Linked DNA regions of Homo sapiens: region 1 is linked to region 2. The links come from fine-mapping of genetic effects on gene expression. A gene starts in region 2. The other region holds a variant in brackets. All regions are shown on one strand. Distances are between the middles of the regions.

Region 1 (8,726 bases), 64 kb before region 2:
TTTCTACGGAGCGTGGTGGCTCATGCCTGTAGTCCCAGCTGGGTCTCCACATCTGAGGCCAGGAGTTTAAGATCAGCCTGGGCAACAGAGCAAAACCCAGTTTCTAAAAGAAATTTAAAAAAATAAAATAAAATAAAAAAGAATAAACTTTCCTAAACTGTATACATTAGACCAAACCATCTGGAAGTATGATTTAATTCCTCAGATGTCACATAAATGGAACTATTACAATGAGACAATATTGAAATATGTTTAAAATGGAAATAATAATAGGGTTCCTTCTGAAAAACACAAAACTTTACCAAGTTTTACCAGCTAACTTGCAAAAAATATAGAAAATGCCTAGCAGTCAATACCACTGAGACTTAACTGCCAGCAGGCATGACAGACACTCAATCCAAGTCTGTGTTATCAAATATGGGCAAATGGGCCCCTTCTCATCCTTATACTATGAATTTCTGTAATTTCTCAAAACTACAGACAGAGTAAAGAGTATTTCAAGAATTATTAAAAGCTATCAAAATACTTTCCTCAACATTCTAAGACATAGTTTATTTTCCCTTACTAATTACATGGAATAAGAGAGGGAAGTATACATGAAGCTCTTTGAAATAAAAAAACAGTTTCTCTTTCAAAGAAACTTTCTTCTGTTCTTACGACCTTAGTAAATAAATTCTTAACCTTCCTATAGCTAACTAACAAAGAAAATCAAAGATCTTTCAGCTTATGCCTGTGCAACTAGCAAAGGACATGTTTGGGAGCGTAAATTGTATTAATACTAAAAATGATTATTCTATTACTAAAAATACTTGTATGCCTAGAAAAATCAAGTTCCAGCCTCACTGGCTGACTGGTGAGCTGATAATCCAAAGACCTGGCTTCTGCTTTTGGTTCTTGCTCCTCCCTAAAGTGAGAAATGAAGCCATATCTATCAGGCCTCCAAGATTACCCTGGTACAATGGGGAGAGTGCCCTGCCTATTCCAGAGGTGTGAGGATCAAAGGGGTATGTCCTGGAAAGATTTTGACACCCATATAAAAAGCAGTCAATAAAGCCCAATACTAAACATGATCAACATTATAAGCTGTGCTGAGTCTATAGAGGGTCTCATAGTCCCATATAGAGGGTACAATCAGAAGACTGTACATCATGTACATCAGGCACTTGGCATTGTTTATGCTATACTAGTTTCAGCTCCATATAGGAGGCCGGCCCATGCTAGTTTCAGCTCCGTATAGGAGGCCAGCCCATATGGGTACAAAGTTTCTCACTGAAAACCCAGTAAAATCAGTCACTCTTGGAGTGCCCTTTTCAACAGAAGAACATTACTTTGATCACAAGAATCTTATATTTATTTGTCAAATGTTTATTGCCTACCTACTCTGTGCAAGCACTGAGACTGGCAGATGACAAAGACGGGGCCCTTGCCCGTTCCATAGTGGGTTTATGACCTTGAGTAGGAGAGTGGTGTGACCTCTGCCTCACTGTTCAGCTCCCAGGATGGCAAGCACAGTTCCTAGTGGGTGCTCATCAGACATGTGTTGGCTGACCCAAGGCGGGTTTTGCTACACTCAGCTGCTCTCTTCTCACTGACTTCCTGGACTCCAGTGCTCAGTGAGCAGCCAGTGGAAAAGGGCCGCCTCACCTTTCCCTTCCACCAGGTGTTTTTAACGGGGTTCCGGCATCTTTAAATTGATACAGTCAAAGCGCCACCTCATTCTTCCCCCATTTAACCAAAGGTCTTCATCTGACCACGGGAGGCCTCTTGAATCATGAACGCCAACATTCTGGAAGGGGATACTGCGGTGTTTCTAGCACTCCTTGGAAGGTTTTTGGAATCCCTGGTTTGGTACACTGAGGTAGGAATGTACCAAAGGGAACTCTAATGGACCACAGCAGCTAAGACATTTCTCTAGAAATGAAACTTAACTACCCATGAGTAACTTAGGTGCCATAGCAAAGCCAGTCCTCTCTTTACCACGTTTGTACAAAGAATGTATTTCCTATGCATTGACTAGGGAATCCCCCCAACTCATAAATTATAAAAATGACACTTCCAAGCCATCAATGAAGGAAGTGTCATCATTAAAGTGGTAGTGCAATATAACAAAGTGTTTACAAACAAAACACCATCCAACATACCCCCAAATGCTCCTTTTTGGTTGTTATACAGTTTGAAAAAAGCCTACAGTTAGCTATCAATTCCTTACAGCAATGAAGTACTAAGCTAAACAATGCATTCAGAAATTTCTTAGGCCAAATCCTGACAGTATACCAACTACGAGTTGGTAAACACTGTTTTTAATCCTGCTGAAGAAGAGAAACGCGAACACCAAGTAAAACTTACTATAAACTACAAATATTTCAATATTTACACTCAATATGAGTTCGACACAGTAGTATAAACTGAAGGTCAACAGGCTCAAGAATTTATCTGAAGCACCAGGAGACAGTAATATATGTAGTTTAGAACTACAATTCAAAAAGTAAACACAAATACATTTATCAGGTCAAATAGCATCACACACACACGTACAACTCACTCATTCATCTCTCACACTTTTTCTATTCACAGGATATAAGCACTATCAAAAACAAAACAAAAAACACTTTCAATAAACACTTAAATCTTTGAAAAATCTAAATTTGGATATGCTAAACAAAGAAACAAACTACCTATTTTAGACTGCAGCCTAGGAGAGGTTCTTTAAATATTTACTTATTCTAACCTGAGACAACTTTCCTTCTGAAAATAAATTGCACTTCCCCCAAAGATATTTGTATTTAAAATTTAAGACCTATCCTGAGCCACCAATTCCAACACACACCTGGTAAAAGTGCCTTATCAAGAAAGAAGTATCAAAAAGTTATCAAGAAATGATGTTTCAAGGCATAAGTGGAATGTTAAAACACAAACCTGCATGAAATGAGTCAACATTTATTTTACAATACTGAAATAACTGTAATTTACAAAAGAGTCATGATTAATGTTGGAGCATAGTAAAATTAAATACATCCCTATACTTCAACACAATATTTTAATATTTATATATAGTAAAATAACAGTTTGGCACTTAGCAGCTTTGTTGGTTATTGCATCCCATATTATGTGGCAAATTTATTTTATAAAACATTATCTAATTTCTGCAGTTATAGAGTCAATGAACTGAAATTAAAAAAAAAAAACACTATTTTTATAAAATGAATTTACCAAGTCATGCAGGTACTGATAATATTGCAAGAGGAACACATTCACTCCTAAATAATGAACTGTCTCCTTGGAGAGGCCTGGTGTAGACTGGAAAAAAAACTTTAAATATCAGAAATTAAAAAAGGAGAATTGCTGACGATCGTGGCTTTAACTGGATGTCAGTTACTGTTTTAATGTTCCCCAATTACAGCTGCTGAATGCCAAGGTACTGTTCTGTACAGGACATTTCACCAAAGCAAATTTAGTTTTTCAGCTATTTCCTTCCTCTAAAACTAATATCTAGTTGTAAAAAGAAAAATCTTCCTTTCTTTGCAGAGGCCACATAGTTTGCTTTCATTAAAAAGATCTCCACACTGTCACTACGAAAATGTGCAGACAACAGCTGACTGGTACACAAAACAATTCTGAATTTGGTTTTGACTGACATATTAAACATGATTGAATTACATGACTGTGCGGCACATCTGGCCTGGTGCCTCTGGCATATAAGATAAAAACCTTACACCTTCTCTTATCAGGTATCTTCTGGCTAAAATGGAGAGTTAATGTACCACACTCAACACTCTCTAGAACCCCATAGGCACAGCATCTTTCAGCAACTTTTGACGCATTGTACTGACTTCCAGCAGGTATAAGAAAAAAAATCACAGGTCACCCTTTTTTATGTCTATGGGTGGGAGAACGTAAGTGATGTTTTTCATATGCATGTTAATTGCATATAAACGTTCCATACAGGAAGTTTCTAGAAGAAATTCCTGTTCTCGACTTAAAACCAAAGGATACCTTTATACATGTGTTAATAAGACAAAATGCTGCTTCTTACAGCCATATTCCAAAAGGAAAAAAAAAACCTTTTTTTTAGAAAACAATTAAAAATGAAGTACTGTATATTAAATTGATTAGAAATTTGACATTGCATAAAATTCAATTTAGGAAGGAATCAAGCACTTTGAAGTCCCCGATTTCACACTAGGGTGGTGTAATTCAAGTGGAAAACAAAATATCTTACAAGATACGTTCCACGAACGAAAGACATTTTTCCCCCAATGAGAAGTGGGGTAAAGTGGGTTGAGGTGAGAATGAGAGATAGGAAAGGAGGGAAGGAGGAAAAGATTAATTTGCTCTACTATGAACAGAATGAAATTAAGTTGAGGTAGTTTATTCTACCAGCCAAACTTTACTCGTAACATAATTTGTCTAAAACTCTCACTAGTGAATGCCACTGGGAAACTTCTATTACAAAGACTAGATTCTTAACACAGATTCGCATTCTAAGACAAGTTTTCAAACCCTAAACAGTAGTAAACAAGACTTTGTGTGCTTTCAGACAGGTTATATGAAAAAGTTTCTGATCCCTATGTATTTTGTCTGGATAGCTTTTTTGTTTTTGCTTTTTTAGCCACAGCAGACCTTTATTATTTGTCTGACTCAGGTCTTTCTTTTATAAAATCTCCTACTCACTAATATCCTCATACTTAGAAAATGGTTTTGCTCATTGAGAAGGCAGAATGGCACTGCAGGAGACCCTTCCCGGCTCCACAGGTACTACCCCAGAAAGGATGCGTGACGTGTCTTGATCTAAGTCAACACAGAAGCGAGCAACTTCTTTCAGTTCACATGAGGGCTGCAACCTGACTCATCAATTTACTGAATCTTTACATTACTAAGATAAAGTTACAAAAGAGCAATTTTATCTTCATTTCAATTCATCATGATATAGTTTTAAAAAGATTCTTAGGACAGAGTACTAGGAATAAATGGAGACTAACTGGCATACAGTCCAATCTAACATTTTAGGCACAAACCTTAATTTGTTGGGCAGG[G/C]TTAGGCATAATATATCCTTCCAAGTGCAGTGGAAAAGCAGTCTTGGCATGTTTGGATATGTTGATTTGCATATACGGATTTTGTTTGTTACCAAAGCTACGTATTTGAATACAGCAGTCAGACATGAGTTCCCTTCAGGGAAAATGCACCTTAGTATTTTAACTTTGATATTTTACATGATAGCAATTCCCACTCCCTTTTCCTTTTGATATTTACTAGCCTCCCTAGCCTCCAACATCTACAGCCACATTTAACTGGAGGAACTCACTCCTCCCAGGTAGTTTTTCAACAGTTACGTGTTCTCCCAAACAAGAGCTAAAGCTCAAGTTTGTAAGCATCATAAAACCACCAAAGAGTTACCATACCAAAGCCCAGCACAGAGTGAGTTTCAGCTGCCATCTCTGCTCTCCCTTTCGGAGCTATGTTATGGTGCTCTTGGGTCAGGATCTCGCACTCTGCTCTGCTTCCTCCTCAAGGGGAATGAACACGAATACGGAATAAGCCTTGCTGAAGCTGCAGGCGGAAAAGCTTGCAATTCGCAATGCGTAAGGCTGCACATCCTGTACGGCGAAGGTCGGATGGAAGGAGTGGTTTAGTGTGGTGCCAGGTTCCTGTGCTTCTTTTAAACTCACGCACGTAGTCGTAATTGGTACCTAAGCCACAGAAATAAGCAAGGGTGAGAAAATGTACCCAGAATCACCAGGAAACAGTTCCAAGAAAATCACTGTAACACTCTTACCTGTATCAAGATCTCCAATAACATAAATACTGGCTCCTATAGGTACAGCTCCATAAACAAAAGAGGAACTGGCGGGGATGCATAAATTCTGGTCGTTAAGATAGATCCACCTGAAAACAAAGCCCATGCACAAAATTAAGGAAATCAAAAGGATGACAACAACATCTAGGAAGACTGACACAGCAAGCTTGGTGAGTCATCAGCAGTATCAGGCACTGTGCCAATCTCGACCCCACGTTCCACTGCCAGGTAACCACCGACATGCTGCCAGTCGCTACAGATAGGAGTTTTGTCTGTGCTAGAATGAAACATGTATTGAGTCATAAACAGCATGTGCTTTCCAACCTGCTTCTGCTCAGCACAAGGTTTCTGAGATTCATCCACACTGTTGTTTGCATCTGTCATTCATTTCTGTTTATTTCTAAGCAGTACTCCATCATACGGATGTACCAGAATTTGTTGGTTTTTCAGACAGGGCCTCCCGAGTGCAGTGGCACAATTATGGTTCACTGCAGCCTCAACCTACCAGTTCAGGTGATCCTCCCACCCCAGCCTTCCAAGTAGCTGAGATTACAGGTGTGCACCACCACATTCAGCTAATTCCTGTGTGTGTGTGTGTGTATGCGTGTGCATATATATACACATATACACATATGTATATACACACATATATACACACATATATACACACATATATGTATGTATATATACATATACATACATATAATATATACTTATACATACATATATACACATATACACATATATATGTATATGTGTGTATATACATATACACATATATGTATACACACACACATACACACACACACACACACACACACACACACACACACACACACACATATGTATGTATAAAGATGGGATATTGCCATGTTGCCCAGGCTGGTCTTGAGCTCCTGGGCTCAGGTGATCTGCCCACCTCAGCATCCTAAAATGCTGTATAACAGGCGTAAGCCACAGAGTCCAGCCCCAGAATTTGTTATTCATTCACCTGTTGACGTTCCAGTTTTTGGCTGTTATGAATAAGGCTGTCAGGAACATTAGAGAGCAAGTCTTTTTTGCGGACTTATGAAATTGCTGGGCTATATGGTAAGGTTATTGTTTACTGGAAAAAAAAAAAGTGCCCCACTGCTTTCCAAAGCTTTGTGCCATAATTTTGCACTCCAATTAGCAATGCATGAGAATTCCAACTGCTCAGTATCACTGTGAGATCTGAGTATTATATTTTTAATTTTGGCTACTTTAATGGCGTATACTTCCCTGAAGACCAATGATGTTGAGCATCTTTGCCTGAGCTTATTGGTCATTTTATGGAATTTTTTTTTTTTTTTTTTGAGACAGGGTCTTACTCTGTCACTCATCCAGGCTGGAGTGCAGTGGTGCAATCACAGCTCACTGCAGTCTCAACCTCTTGGACTCTAGTGATCCTCTCACCCCACCCTCCCAAATAGTTGGGACCACAGGTGCACACCACCACACCCAGCTAATGAATTTTTTTTTTTTCCATAGAGATGAGGTCTCACCATGCTACCCAGGCTGATCTCAGGTTCCAGGGCTCAAGTGATCCTTCTGTCTTGGCCTCCTAAAGTACTGGGATTGCAGGTGTGAGCCACCATACCCAGCCCCATTTTATGTTCTTTTATAAAATGTCTGTTTAAAGGTTTGCTCACTTTAAAACTGGGGGCCAGGTGTGGTGGCTCAAGTCTGCAATCCCAATACTTTGGGAGGTTGAGGCAGGTGAATCACTTGAGCCCAGGAGTTCAAGACCAGCTGGGCAACATGGCGAAACCTTGTCTTTACAAAAAATACAAAAATTAGCCAAATGTGGTGGCATCTGTCCCAGCTACTCAGGCTGAGGTGGGAGGATTGCTTGAGTCAAGGAGGTCAAGGCTGCAGTGAGTTGAGATCATGCCACTGCACTTCAGCCTGGGCAAAAGTGAGACCCTGTCTCAAAAAAAAAAAAAAAAAGATAAATTAAAAAAAAAAAAAAGGACGTAGCAAGACTGTCTCTAAATTTTTTTTTTAATTGGGTTTACTGTCTTCTTCTTATTCAATTGTCAGATTCTTTATATCCTGTGGATATAGATACTTTGCTAGATAAATGTATTATGAATATTTTTTCCCAGCATGTAGGTGGCCTTTTCATTTTCCTAATGGACTCTTTTGAAGAACAGAAGTTTTTAATTTTGATGAATTCCAATATATCCTTTTCTTCTTTTACAGTCACAGTTTCTGTGTCATTCTAAAAAATCTTTGCCTACCCCAATACGAAGATTTTTCTCCTATGCTCTCTTCTGGAACTTTTAGTTTTATCTTTTACATTTAGGTCTATGATACATTTCAAGTTAATTTTTTGGGTCTGACATGAATCACAGTTCACTTTCTTCCATACAGATAGCTAGCTGTTCCAGCACCATTTGCTAAAGGCTTTTCTTTCCCCCACTAAATTGCCTTGGCACCTCTGTTGAAAATCAATTTAATAACCACTAAAAGGATTTGAGGCTCTATGAAGAAGTGCTTGATCCCAGAGCTGAGGCAGAGAAAATACAAGAGGGGCCTGGGGCATCCTGTCGTGCCAGATAGGAAGTGCTTAAAAAAGGATGGGGGTGTGTCAAAGGACACGGAAGCCACAGTGAAGCAGCTACTGACAGCCGAGGCTGGAACTATGTGAGCAAGAAAATCAATAATGATGGTGCTGGATTTATAACTCAGGAAATAAAATAAATATCCATGAATCCATATACTATAAATAATTGGAAAACATTAACAGGAAAAAGGGACAGGTTTCCTTTACCGAAAAATTCCAATTAATAAATGCAGAAGGAATGACGGGAACAAAATCATCATCAGGCAAACACCACAGTAATGACTTCTGCAGGCTAGGTCTACCAGTGGATGCTCAAATGAGTGCTTGACAGTTTCAGGAGAAAAT
Region 2 (8,726 bases):
GAAAGGGGCATGCATGCCATTTACTGAGCTGAGGGACCGCAGGAGGTCCTGCCTCCTTCCTGGAGCAGCTGCACCCTAGGGCTGCATGACACGTGCTCTCTCTACATAACCCGGGGATGCCAGTCCTCTCTGAGCTGACCATGAGGGTGTGTTGCCAAAGCTGAGTTTTCTGGCCTTTTCCTTTTATATTTAAAATCTTTCTAATATGGTAGGATTGCTAAGGGTGTCAGCAGGAAAAACAAGGGCTAGACCAAAGATAAAGCAGAATAAAAGATTAAACCAATAAGTCAAAAGACTTTTCTATATTAAGTAGAAAGTATGCCAAACAAGTTACTTTAATTCCCAGTGTGACAGAGTTGGACTGGCTTCCTTTGTTGGGCACATAGTAAGCAAAAGACAATACTGCTCCTATTTTTTATATACATGATTTATTATTGTACAGACTGGGTCTCACTATGTTGCCCAGGCTAGTCTCGAACTCCTGACCTCAAACGATCCTCCCGCCTCCACCTCTCACAGTGCTAGGATTACAGGTGTGAGCTACCATGCCAGGCCATACCACTGCTTCTAAACCACACAATCACACAACCACTTATGACAGTTACCAACACTAGGCCAAACACAGACATTAAACAAAATCAGAATTTTATAAAACTTCAGAGATTACCAAACTTTTGAACATTCAATTCACAGATTAATGATATCACAGATCTAAATGCTTAAGTTTCAAAAGGGAAAGATAAGAAACATCAAGTTCTAGAATACATAAATATATTTTGTTTCAATATAATTCTCTAAAGTGCTATTCAAACAAACAAGTACATTATAAAAGCCCAATATTATTGGTATTAAAATTACCAGTAAAAATACAAAATTAACAAATTTCTTTCTAGTTAGTGATACAGATTCGTCAAATTACTTTGAAACAGCTTCGGAATTGATAATTTTTAAAAACATCCCAAGACATTCTATCACTTCAATAGCCAAATAAACTTAAAGCAATTCATCTGTCACTGATGAAACACATATTGACTGATTCATGTTTATCCACAAAACATAAAAAAAAAAAATCTGCCTTCTCTTTAAAGATGATTGAAAATGGAAACCAAAATGACACAGTATGTAAAAGTGCTTGATAAACATTTTAATTCTAAGATATTGTAAGCCAGCTAACAGTAAAGTTTACACAAAGAGAACGGTGAAATACAAGTAATGCTCTAACGTGGTAGGGCAAGAGTAGGAAGGCGGTTAGCCGTAATTAATTTGGAGTCTAATCCTAGTTCAACCATTAAGTACTAATAACCTCATAACACAAGTCACTAATGTCCACTGAGCCCCTATTTTCTTATTTAGAAAGTGAAAGAACCGGACTACAGATATTTCCTAATTCAATGGGTACTACCTTTGAAGACATGGGAACAGACCTATGAGGTGTCAACACTATTACGTATTTCTTCACAGGTGTGATTAAATGAGAAGACTCATTTTTATCCCTCATTCATCAGATTAGTGAGCTGAAGCCTTGTCATCTACCAGCAACTCACAGCTAATATGAGTAAAAGCTGGAAGCACAAAGCGGGTCTTCAAACTCTGAATCCAGTGCGTTTCTCAATTAGGTATAACTGAGCGTCTGTGTACTATGAAAATGTGATGGTGCCAATTTTCTAATGTACACATTTGCTGTGGTAGAAAGAAAGGCAGTCATTCATTCAATACATTAACTGATAGGCACAGTTCTTTCTGGGTGCAAAGAGTAAAGCAGTGAATAAAAGAAAACACCGCCGGGTGCCACGGCTCACGCCTGTAATCCCAGCACTTTGGGAGGCCGAGGTGGGCGGATCACGAGGTGAGGAGTTCGAGACCAGCCTGGCCAACATGGTAAAACCCCGACTCTACTAAAAATACAAAAATTATCCGGGCGTGGTGGCGGGCGTTTGTAATCCCAGCTACTCGGGAGGCTGAGGCAGGAGAATCGCTTGAAACTGGAAGGCGGAGGTTGCAGTGGGCCGAGATCACGCCACTGCACTCTAGCCTGGGCTAAAGAGTGAAACTCAGTCTCGAAAAACAAAACAAAACACCACGACCTCATTGAGGTCACACTGTGGTTGGGAAAGACCACCAAAGTAAATGTGTAAAATATGGGGTACGTCAAAGTGGTAAGTGCTATGGAGAAAAACGAACAAGGATAACAAGCAAGGATTCGGCAATTTGCAATTTACTTCTTTTAAGCCAAACGGATGCCATTTAAAGAACTATAACAATAATGCATCTAAAGTAGTTTTCTTCAGCATTTTCCCAAACAGGGAAGACTTTGGTCTGCTGACTCCAATTTGGGATGGGTTGCTCAAACCTCGGAACTGCCAGCTAGAAGCTGTCTGTCACATTAGCAATCCAAATTCTGTACTAACGATGCTACCCCAGACCCTACTGCCGCCCCGCCCCCCCACCCCTCCACACTCCCCACCGCCAAAGAGCGCAAATGGATTCACAAAACAAATCCAAGAGAAACCAGAAGTTACAAGGGCACTTGAATTTCTTCTAAGTTTAGCACAGATATCTCCCCAATGCAAAGGTTAAAAGTGTAGCGTGCGTGGTGGTTTTGCTGGGACAAAGCGCTAAGAATACACATCATTTTGCTTTTTCTGACCTGTCAATTGTAGTGATATTCTCTACCACTAGCTTATATTTAACCAGCTTACTGGTCAGTTTCTCCAGTTTTTAGCATTCCCCCCTTTCCTTTTATTAAAACAGCAACCTAGTTTGCAAGAAGGTTGCTAAAAGAAAAGATAGTCTCCTGCAAGATCTGATACACTTGTATAAGCACTGTCTTATCAACCTTTTAATTAACCTGGTTAGTTGAGTTGGCAAATCAGGTTAAGCTTTGCTTTACTAAAGTATTAAAATGCCCTTTGTCGCAAGGCTCTCACGGTCCTCGGGTTGTAACAGCATCCTGAGAATTCGCTACAGTTTACTTCAACGTGTAACTCCTCTTTTAAACAGTTACCAGAATGGAGCGGAAAAGACACGTTTGGCAAGGAGAATTTCGCCCGGAGGTTCGGACTACCAACCCAAGGAGAACATCGAGAGGGTTTTCTCTGCCTGCACCCAGCGAGGCGCTGTCTGTCTGGCCTCCCAGCGGGCAGGGCGCTCCCCGCCTGGTTGGCGGCGCCGGCCCAGCCCCCGCGCGTGGATTCAGAGGCGAGCGACTGGCGAACTTCAGCGGGGACCGCGGGCCCGGCCTGGGCGAGGGGGTGACTCTTCCCCGGCGCGGCCTCGCCCAGCCCGCAGGTGCGGGTCCCGGCCGGCCCAGGACGGCGTCTGGGGGCCTCAGGGTCTCCGAGGTCGGGCGCTCGCCGCGGCGGTGGGAACCGGGAGGGACAAGGCGGGGGATCGCGGCCCGGGTCCGGGGACAACTCCAAGGGGCGCGGGGGTCCAGTGGGGAGCGCGGGCCTGGAAGCCACAGAGGCCGCCTGGGGGACGCGGTCAGCGGGGCCGGGTTCCGGCGCTTGCCGGGAGGGACGCCGCGCCAACGGTGACGCGGGGACCCCGGCGCCGGGGACAGGGGACAGGGTCTGGGGGCCACGCCCGGCCCGGCCGCCCCGCCTCCGGCTCCGGGCAGCACCGCCGCGCCCGCCCGCCGTAGCCCCCTCCCCACCTGATGTACGGGCTGGCCGCCGCCAGGATGTTCTTCTGCACCGGGATCTCCTCCCCGTCGAGGACCAGGTGCGCGTCGCAGAAGCGAGACTCCTCGCGGAAAGAGCTGAGCGCTCGCAGCAGACGCGCGGCGTGCTGAGGGTCAGACACGGCACTGCCCTCAGCCATCGCGGCGCCCGCTCCTCTGCCGACGGGTCCGGCTCCCGACACCGTCCGGCCGGACCCCTCGAGCGGCCCGAGTCCTGCGCGCGCGCCCGCCCGGCCCGGCTCTCCGCGCTCTGAGCAGAAGCTGGAGCCCCCGGGACGTGCCTGTGCTATCCGCGGCGCGCTGGGCCGGCGCCTTTAAGAAGCCGCGTCATGAAGTCATTTCTCCGCGACGCCCCCGCACCGTCGCTCCCCGCCTTCTCGCCTCCGCTGCTGGAGATGGCCAATCAGAAGCCTCCTTCCTCCGCCCGCCTGACCAGCTGCGGCTGGGTGCAGCGGAAGGTGTCTACGGATGAGATAGGTCGCTCCCGCGATGGAGGGATGTGCGGGCGGGCTAGGATTCCGTGGTTAAGCCTGTGGCCTCTGGAGCCGCGAGTTTGAATCCTGGTTGCAGCTGTTCCACTTACTAGCTCTGTGGCCATGGGTAAGGTGCCCATCCTCAGTTTCTCCGTCTGCAAAATGAAAGCGAATTCTTAGTGTTGTTGTGGACTCATGAGATGATGCATGGAAGCAAGGGCGAAGTCGCTGTAGCTTTCTTTATTTATGAGAGAAAAGGAGCTGCCCAGGTGAGAGGACAAAAACCCGAGAAAACAGACCCGGAAAAGATGGTTTTGGTTGCGGGCTAGGAAGGAGATGTAGCAGATGAAGCTGGAGAAGTCCGAAGGAGGCCTTAAATTTTGCAGGGCCTCCTTGGTGTGGGAAGGAGTTTGGTTTCTGCAGTGGTGAAGAACCATGGAAGTACCGTATTTAGCAGGGGATTTTGTGCAGGTCACTCAGCTCCTGCGTGGAGAATAAGGCGGGGATGGATGTGCTAAAGGCAGATCGATGCTTAGGTATTGCAGGACTAGAGAGAAGGGAATGGGCACCTGGATGAAAGGGTGATGCGGGGGCGGGGGTAGACAATAGTGGATTGTTTTAAAAGAAATTGTGAGGGAGAGGGAGTTAAGGATAAATATTCTGTTTGAGTAACTGCATGCATGTTTGCACCTTTCAGGGAGAGCTAGGAAATGCTGAAGGGGTGGGCAGTAGAGAGGCAGATGTTTAGATTCAGACAGGCTCCCAACCCAGTGAAGATCAAAGCTGTGATAGAAAGGATCGCTGGGTCAGCTCAGCTGGCAGGCCAAGCCCCACGGTATCTGAAGTTTCCCTGGAGGTTGCTCAGGGCACATGGGAGTGTGGAATGTAGCAACCATTTTGTGCAAACGTTAGGGACTCCATAAGCCTCTAAAAAATTAGCAATTGTATGAGGACTCCGGACCAGAAGAATGTGGCTAGCATTCCAGGCAAGACAGGATGGAATTTTCACTGTCCTTCAACCAACTGAAAGGCTCCAATAAAGTCTTGGGTATTTACCCTGAACCAGCCAAGGCTTTGGAGTCACTGGCAGGAATCCGAGTATCTAACTGTTTTCAGGGCAGAATAGATGGGGAGGGTACGGCTGTGGAAGACACATGCATTTCCACTTTCTTCTGTAAATGCAGCTCAGTGTTCCCGGATGCAATGATAAAGATGTCTAGGATTTGCTTCAAAACAAAACAAAGGGATGGGGAAGCAGATGGGAGTGTAGATGAGTCAAAAGTGGCCGCAAGTTACTAATTGTTAAAGCCACGTAATGGGGATGTGGAGATTCGTTGTACTGTCTCTATATTGTTGTGGATGTTTAATGGGGATGTGGAGATTCATTGTACTGTTTCTATATTTTTGTGGATGTTGAAAAATATTTTCTTCTTTCTTTTTTTTTTTTGAGATGGAGTCTCCCTCTATTGCCCAGGCTGGAGTGCAGTTGTGCAATCTCTGTTCACTGCAACCTCCGCCTCCCGGGTTCAAGTGGTTCTCCTGCCTCAGCCTCCCAAGTAGCTGGGACTACAGGCATGTGCCACCATGCCTGGCTAACTTTTGCATCTTTAGTAGAGATGGGGTTTTACCATGTTGGCCAGGCTGGTATCGAACTCCTGACCTTGTGATCCGCCCACCTTGGCTTCCCAAAGTACTGGAATTACAGGCATAAGCCACCACACCCGGCCGAAAAATATATTTAAAAAGGTAAGAAACACACAAGACAAGCAGCTTGGACTTATCTTCTCCATGATACCTACCCAGTATCCCTGTGAGCAGCTGACATTCCTTTCTCCAAGCAGTTGCTGTATTTTGAACATTGCTCGAGCAAGAAACTTTTTATAATGGGTTTATTTATCCATGTCACCTGCTATACTATGTTTATTGTAGCTCAGCATGATTTCCAGGTACCAAGCACAGTACTTGGTGCGTAATAGTGCTAACTGAATGTTGGATGGATGGAGGGATTAAAAAAAAGAAAAACACCTGAATATCAGACACTTAATAAATGTTTCTTGGGAGGCCGAGATGGGCGGATCACGAGGTCAGAAGTTCGAGACCAGCCTGGCCAACATGGTAAAACGCCGTCTCTACTAAAAATACAAAAATTAGCTAGGTGTGGTGGCAGGCACCTGTAATCCCCACTGCTCAGGAGGCTGAGGCAGGAGAATCACTTGAGCCCGGGAGGCAGAGGTTGCAGTGAGCCGAGATCACGCCATTGCACTCCAGCCTGGGTGACAGAGCAAGACTCTGTCTCAAAAAAAATAAAAAATAAAATAAATAAATGTTTTCTGAACTGTATTCTCTATCTGTTCTTAGTTAATTTGTGTTTGCCATTTTTAAAGTCAAAAACCAGGGAGAGTTCTCTACACAATGTAAATATTTGATAAGTACTTATTAATTGCTTATTGTGCTAGTCTATTCTTTAAATATCAGAGGTTCCAAAACAAAGAGCTCCAATAGTAGGATCACAGTCAGGTAACCAATTATCCGAGTAGGAAGGTTGCCTTAGTTGAAGTAACTGGAGGTGAATGGGGATTTGTCAGGCAGGCTCTTCCAGATAAAGGTGAACCTTCCCTGTTGTTTTGATAGAAGGAGGAAATGGAATGACCATCAAGAGAAAGGTAGTTGCTGGCTTGAGAGGATCATCTGTGCAACAGGCAGCTAAGCAGAAGAAGACTTTATATATATTTTTAATACCACCCACACTGTTGCTAGTATTCCCCACCACTCCATTGGCCTGGTGAACTCTTATTCATCCTTCAAAACCCAGCTTAACCATGGCCTTCAGGAAATCTTGAGCTGGCTTCCCAGGACAGAGTGGGTCAGTCCTCTGCATGCTCCTGCTGCTGTGCTGTACTCACCATACTGTACTGTAATTTACTGGTTTGTAAGTCATTTCCACTGCTGGGTTGTGAGCTCCTCCAAGGCAGGGGCTTTGCCTTATCTGCCTATGTTCCCAGGACTTACACAGTGCCTGATGTGTAGTAGGTACCCCATGAATGTTTTACATAATTAGCAGGAGCGTATCAGGTAAATTAGCAAAGCAAACTGTGGGATGTGGGATGTCAGACAATAGGAGTAGGTGGGCTTATGGGAGCTGAAGAGCACATGCTCCTCAGCTCTGATTGATTGCTCTGTGCGATAGGGGCCCAGTGGTGGTGGATCTAACAACTTTTTAAGAGATTCTGACAATTCAGACTTTACATGTTGAATATTCCGGATTTTCAACATTAGCAACTAATTCCATTTGGAGGAAAAAATGTAGCATGGGTCTACAGACAAGATCTGGCTGTAATTCATGTTCAGAGGTAATCAGGAAACGATTAGTTTACTGAAAATGTAGTCGACAATCAAATGGCTGCTAGGTTGCCAATAAAATGTGTTGAGTGGAATTCACATGCCCCAGAAAGCTCCTCCTGGTGCTGTGGGCAAGGAAGAGGGCCCAAGTGTGGGAAGAAGGATTCAGGAGGCAGAGCCAACTCTCCCAGTGCTGCCGGAGCCACTCTTGCTTGAGCTGAAGTACTGTGGACTGTTTTGCAGCCTTCTTGATATTGCTCAAACTGAGCCACCCTTGATATTGTGCCTATCAGAATGATGGATTAAATGTTATTGTTTCCTTATATTCCATAGGCATCAGATATCAACTGTCATTGTGAAACATATTACAATGTAAGAGATTTGATATTGTCCTAACAGCTTTAGTCTCTGGTGGCTTTACTGAGCTCTTCTGGTTTAGAGGTGAAACAACCCAGAGAAAGGATTTATTTATGTATTCGTTTTTGGTCTGAAGACCAAAAAGGATGTTTGCAAGATATTAACAGTAATCATTCATTCAACAACTGTTTTTAAAGCACCTGCTGTACGATACCTGCTACAGATACAGTGATGGTGAAAGTATAGTTGTCTCAGTGTTATTATAGAAGCTTTTACTCTGTATTTTCCTCGATTTCTATTTTCTGTACTGATCATGCATAATTTTTTACAATCATTAAAAAAACAAGAAAGCAATGTCTTTTTGCAAAAAGGGAAAAAAAAGCTTTCTTTTGCTTTGAAAAATGTGCCCTCAAGAGAGGAATCCACTTGGGGGGTTGGGCTTTTATTTCCTAAAAACTACTTAGAGAGTCCAGTAAGAGAAATAATGCAAAGAAAATATTAACAGTTTGAAAATTCTTTAGCAAATATCAAGTCCAACGGATTTATCTTATTGAAGAGAAAACCAAAGTACAGATGAGCAAATGACTCAGTCAAGGTTATAGGTGTGACCCAGTCAGGGCAGAACAGACTAAGGTCTAGATCTTCTGCTTTCCAGCCCTGTAAGCTTTTCCATTACACCAAGTCGACTTGTCATAAACATTCATTTGTTTGAGACAGTCTCTTCTGATTCATTTTAAGGTAGTCTTCAGATATTTTATTGGGTAAATCTTTCATTTGTCCAAATCTATATATAGCTGTTTTCTTTCCAAAAAAAAGTCTAGGCTCTTTCAAATTGCTGAGTCAGAGAACATCTCAGTATTTATAACGCTTCAGAG

The links. PIP is the estimated chance that this variant, and not a neighbour inherited with it, causes the effect.
Region 1: its variant is the best candidate, but not a certain one, in a credible set for the expression of GAN in testis (GTEx, PIP 0.66).

What each region holds. Positions count from the first base shown.
Region 1 is chr16:81,374,376-81,383,101 of GRCh38, reverse strand. GAN (gigaxonin) reads right to left here. Exons shown (of 11, transcript NM_022041.4): 10 at 5,774-5,883; 11 at 1-5,687. The coding sequence ends at 5,506. Among named protein-coding and RNA genes, the nearest start is that of MIR4720, 6.3 kb to the left of the region's middle. The variant G/C (reference allele first, on the strand shown) is at 5,034.
Region 2 is chr16:81,310,210-81,318,935 of GRCh38, reverse strand. It overlaps GAN (gigaxonin), which reads right to left and starts at 3,974. Exons shown (of 11, transcript NM_022041.4): 1 at 3,656-3,974. The coding sequence starts at 3,822. RefSeq lists silencers at 3,098-3,367, 3,388-3,447, 3,588-3,927 and an enhancer at 3,938-4,137.